2 separate regions of the Homo sapiens genome follow, and region 2 is linked to region 1. The links come from fine-mapping of genetic effects on gene expression. A gene starts in region 1. The other region holds a variant in brackets. All regions are shown on one strand. Distances are from middle to middle. Region 1 holds the start of PRIM2 (DNA primase subunit 2). Region 2 overlaps PRIM2 (DNA primase subunit 2).

Region 1 (2,918 bases):
ATATGCATTGTACAATAAATAAATGAATGAGTACCAAACCCTCAACAAATATTTGTTGAATGGATTGCTGAATGAAGGATATGAATTACCTCAATAAATACTTGTTGAATGGATTGCTGAATGAAGGAAATGAATTACCTTCATTCATTCTCACAAAGGGTAAGTGAGCTTCTCAAGAATATATACATTCTAATTTAAATAGTACTTACATTTAACTCTATCAATAGCCAAGTTTTCAAATTCTATTAAAGATATGTTTTCAGAAGGTGGCTGCAAGTAAAACTGAAGGCAATGAGGGTAGGAAGCATTCCTCTGGTCACCTGCCAACCTCAGCTTCCTCCACTTTCTTCCAGAAAACTCCATCTTGGTCACCTTAGAAGGAAGTACACAAAAAGCGTAAAATGATGGAAAACAAAGTTGGGGGAAAAAAAAGAAAAAACACGAAAAAATAATTCCACAAACACAGAAAAAAAATGGATTTGAGGGCATGCACAAAATGTTAGCAGTGGCAATTCCTGGGTGATGTCCTTCTCTCGTTTCCAGATTTTCTACAATACACCTATAATAATTTTGTAATGGGGGTGGGAGAGGCGCTAGAGCAGATGCAGGTGGTGATCCTAATTTTCAGCAACATGAAAGTCAGGTGATGTTGCCTGCTCATTATAGGCCTGTGTGTCACTGTTCTTGGATCTTTACGATCCCAAGAGTTAACATAAGGTTTTACGTGGTCTGCAATCCTGAACTTAGAGGAAAGTGCTGTAGGTTCTGGCTAAATGAGGGTCTTACTTGATGGACTGGGTCCAGTTACTCACTTCCTCTGTTATGACTCTGGGAAACAGAGCAACTGTCTTTCGGAACTCCTTTTCGGGAGCATCCACAAGTGCCTTACAAAAGTTCCATCCCCAACACCCCTCCTCACTCCACTGGCAAACCTATCTCTCCCCAACTCCTCCCTGGTACCTGGGTGTCTGCCCCAAACAACCAACCCGCCAAGTCTGTCCTTCTGCTACTGCTGCCTGCAAAGTGATCCATCTCTCCTTTCTCTCGACTTGCAAGCCTTAATAACAGGATTGCTCTCTGTCCTAAATTCGCGGAAGTTTCCCCTACCTGCAAGAATTCAAACTCGGGAAAACACAAACGGTGGCAGCCACTGTTCCCGGGTGGCGGGAGAGTTCATATGAAACCGGAAGAGGAAGTGACTAGCACAGAAGGCCAGCCCTGCCCCACCTCCCCTTGGCGGGTAGGAGGGGGTTTGGCCTGAGGCTCTGGGCATGCTCAGTGGAGCGCGTCTGGGAATTCAAGGTGTTCCGTCCACCTTGGCAGCTTTAAAGTGTTTGGATGTCAGTGTTTTGGGGATTTTTTTTCCAAATTTTAAGATGCATTTCCTGTATGTGGAGTCGGTAGCTTTAACGGTTGAAACTGGGGTGCTGAATGCTAGTGGCGAAAACTCCCACACGCCGAAAATTGAACCAATGTAACTTCGTCTGGGGACACTAACAAATATTCCCTATATTGAGGAAAATATGGCGCTTTAACCCTCAGGGCTGGCACTCATCACTTTCAATCTGGGGAGGAATGAGGAAAAAAGGCATTAGGATCTTTTTTGCACCTAGCTCACTATTAGGGGCTCTTTTTTTTCCGCTCGTTTAATCTTTCAGCGACCTATAAGGTCCTATAAGATCGTATTACCCCCATTTGGCAGATGAGAAAACAAGTTACAAGATCCTCGTTAGTTTGCCCGTCTACATACAATACATATTTTGAATTTCGTATTGGGCGGCAAGCCCCTACTGGCAGGTTCCACGTTCAATTCGCTCCCCGCTCTCCGGCAATGCCTCGCACAGAGGAAGCGCGCAGCTGAATTATCTGTGGAATGAACTAGAATGAATGAAAGAAGGCACATTCGCAGGAATCGCTCTGCAATCTACAGGAATTAGAAGAACCCAGCCTCGGAGGGAAGGTAGGGTGGAAGAAGATGAAGCACTGGAAATCACGCGGACGTGCCGCTTACTTTCCAGATGTCCGACTGCAGACTCACAAGCGGGGCGTCAGAGCCACCACACCAGTTCTCCGCTGTCTGTAAGATTTTCGAGAACTGGAAATTAACTTCACTCGTGGCCTCTAGGAGGCGTGCCTCGCTTACAAATGTGCTGGAATGAGGCTCCGGTATAGGTAGTCCTTAGGAGATCAAATGAATGCTTTGAAATGTTCACGTTTTTAGAAATGCAAAGTACATTGAAACAATATCAAGCTTCAAAGCATCTACCCAGCCTGGACTAAACTGTGGCTGGCACTGACTTTATATCAGGACCTGTTCTAAGTGGTTTACATATCAACTCATTTTATTATCATAACCACATAAGATAGGTTATTCCCCCCGACCCACCACCAATACCCGAGACAGAGTCTTGTTCTGTCGCCCAGGCTGGAGTGCAGTGGAGCGATCTTGGCTCACTGCAACCTCCGCCTCCGGGATTCAAGCGATTCTCCTGCCTCAGCCTCCCAAATAGCTGGGATTACAGGCGCCTGGCTAATTTTTGTATTTTTAGTAAAGATGGGGTTTCACCATGTTGGCAAGCTGGTCTCGAACTCCTGACCTCGTGATCCGCCCACCTCGGCCTCCCAAAGGTTATTATATTAAACGTATTTTCTAGATACGGAAACTGAAGAACAGAGAAGTTAAATGAAGTCAAAAGGACACAAAATGTCAGAGCCATGTTCAAACCCAGAGAAACTCTCCAGGCCCCACTGTGCTAACGATCTCACTACACCAATTCCAGTAATATGACAGCAGAGCTTCACCTCATTTCTTCCTCTCTGTATTAAATACATAATACAAATACGTAATACAAATACATCACGTGGTCCAAAGAAGACACCTGAAAGCATATAAACTGCCTGAAAAAACCTGCATCACA
Region 2 (2,918 bases), 25 kb before region 1:
TAGAAATGGAGTAGGTCATGATAATGAATACACATTCGAAACGAACTATGACAACCCAAACTATACCAATAAACAATAAAAACAACACAGTAAGGGCCAAAATGATCAAAAAACTATGACTATTTAAGGCCAACTTGCAGTATCTCAGAAATCAAGACAGAATACCAAAAGTATTTTAAAATTCAATACACCTAAAACTATTAAATCAACGTAAACTCAATGTTCCAATGTTAACTGGAGAAAAGCCTCCAAAGGCTCCTAATAAATTCATAATTGACATTTTCAATAACAAATGACAAATTAAACTTGAATTCATCCTCACTGAAAAGTAATTACCAACCAAGAATGACATGAAATAATTTCTAAGATAAAAGAAATTAAGGCTTTAAACTAAAAGGGATGAGAAACAAATTTTAGATGTCAGGCTCAGGATAAGAAAAACTACTTTTAAATAAACAGAAGTAATTCAAAGTTTTACGTGTACTTGTTTTTAGTGAGGCAACGAGGTTACCAACTTCACTTGCCTTCACCCAAAAGCCCTCACTTCCCTGAACATAAATAGCAACTGAACACTAGGTCTTTTTAATATGAGGTAGAGTCATCATTTGTGACACACAGAATATTCTTCCACATCTTTAAGAATGCTCATTTTCACTGTCCCTGCCATTCTGTAGTACTCTAATGAAAAGCATCCTACCATTAGACCCACTGGTATTGCAAAGCCAATAAGAAATATTTCTTGACTGTCTTAAGGAGGTTTTAAAAAGCATCCAAGTAAATTAGAAGCTGCTGTCAGACTCTAGACTGCGAGAGCACAGAAACCCTTTGTCTGTAAGGCTGACAGCTGCCAAAGCTGACCTTTCCCTAACTGGCCAACTGAAGAAACATTAATAGAATCTGTTTAACCTTACCCATTCACCTTTAATGTGACCAAGGTTAAGTCAATCAACTCAGCAGTGGGAGATGCAAAATAGTCACCATGGACAGCAATATTTACTCATTGAAACGCCTTAGAAATTTCAGATTTAAAATCCAATTTATTTACATATAGGTCAAAGAATGAAAAATATCAGTTTCCTTTTTGAACACTTCATATTAAGGCTTCCTATACTACATGATAAGGATTCAGAATCTACTATCCACCAGAAACCCAGTATAGACTAAA[A/G]AAGTATCAATGCACTGCCCAAGTCAGTAATAGAACACCAGAAATTAATGATCCCTTTTTATGTACATATTTCTCCATCGAAGGACACAATACAACTCAGGTATAACACTGCATCTCCTCCTAAGGTAAAAATATATTTATTTTACAGAAGTAGATCAACATAAAAGCAACTGCAGCATTGAGGAAACCGAAAAGACAGAGAAATGCACACAAACACAGCACACAAGCACTTTAAGTCCAGGTTGACTCAAAGACATGTGTGCCAACAATCCAGCTTCTGTGACAAACAAGATGGCCCCGTGGCTGCCCACTCCCTGCTGTTTCCTTCCACCTCAACTTATGCAGCAGCACCTGACTTAGGCAGCAGGTCACACATCAGACACCACCTCATGAAACAAATGCTAGTAACTTTTCCCCAAACCTTGCTTTGTCATGAGTCTAAAAGCATCACTGATACCTGACTAGCTATAGCAGTTTTCAAATGCAAACTAAATATTCTAACCAAAGTGATGAAAGTGTGCATGTTCCTATTAATGAAATGATAAAAATTGGGAAAGCCTACAATGAAATGGAAAGAGCTTACAGAGACCTGGGGACAAGCTAATCAACAGCACCTGAATTCAAGTGCCTTAATTACCAGTATCAGATGCCATGGGAGAGTCCATGAAAAAGATGGGAAAAGGTCTCTGCCTGGAAAGTGATTGCAGACTATCACGGGAATGGTTATTCTGTCAAGCCCTCTGCAATACTTTGTTACTCTATCTTCCATGAATCCCCATCAGCCACAAATACTTGATCAAGCTTTACATTCTATGGTTTATATTTCAAAAACATAAGGCATAATGTTTTCTATACTCTATACTAACCTCCACCGACGTTCTAATAAACACCCTAGGAGGACTACCTCTCCATCCTATCCCCCCACTGAGAATCACTGAACTAGAAAAATCAAAATAGTCACACAAGAAGGCAAAGTTACTGCTCCCTTTAGAAGCTGTATAACACCACACTGGGATGTATACATACGGATATTAATCATCACTTCAGCCAATCTTTCAAGTTTATCCAAATTTATGCATCTTACTTTAATGCACAGGTTCATTATAATGCACCTCAAATGATTAGCAAAGTGAAACAGGATATAAATTTATAAATAAATAAAATATGGCAAACAGACTAGAAGCAACTAGAGTAATTTTAAACACCAACACTCTTGTTAAAACTGCATACATTTCCCATAAATTCCTGTTTCCTAAAACAAAAAGACTCAACACCATTTTTTTAAATTATTATTATACTTTAAGTTTTAGGGTACATGTGCACAATGTGCAGGTTTGTTACATATGTATACATGTGCCATGCTGGTGTGCTGCACCCACTAACTCGTCATTTAGCATTAGGTATATCTCCTAATGCTATCCCTCACCCCTACCCCCACCCCACAACAGTCCCCAGAGTGTGATGTTCCCCTTGCTGTGTCCATGTGTTCTCATTGTTCAATTCCCACCTATGAGTGAGAATATGTGGTGTTTGGTTTTTTGTTCTTGTGATAGTTTACTGAGAATGATGATTTCCAATTTCATCCATGTCCCTACAAAGGACATGAACTCATCATTTTTTATGGCTGCATAGTATTCCATGGTGTATATGTGCCACATTTACTTAATCCAGTCTATCATTGTTGGACATTTGGGTTGGTTCCAAGTCTTTGCTATTGTGAATAGTGCCGCAATAAACATATGTGTGCATGTGT

What was found. PIP is the estimated chance that this variant, and not a neighbour inherited with it, causes the effect. A credible set is the group of variants that fine-mapping cannot tell apart.
Region 2: its variant is the best candidate, but not a certain one, in a credible set for the expression of PRIM2 in whole blood (TOPMed, PIP 0.87).

What each region holds. Positions count from the first base shown.
Region 1 is chr6:57,315,891-57,318,808 of GRCh38, reverse strand. PRIM2 (DNA primase subunit 2) reads right to left here and starts at 1,179. Exons shown (of 14, transcript NM_000947.5): 1 at 1,108-1,179; 2 at 210-372. The coding sequence starts at 363. RefSeq lists a silencer at 2,045-2,094.
Region 2 is chr6:57,340,395-57,343,312 of GRCh38, reverse strand. All of the region lies in intron 5 of PRIM2 (DNA primase subunit 2), which reads right to left. Among named protein-coding and RNA genes, the nearest start is that of PRIM2, 24 kb to the right of the region's middle. The variant A/G (reference allele first, on the strand shown) is at 1,166.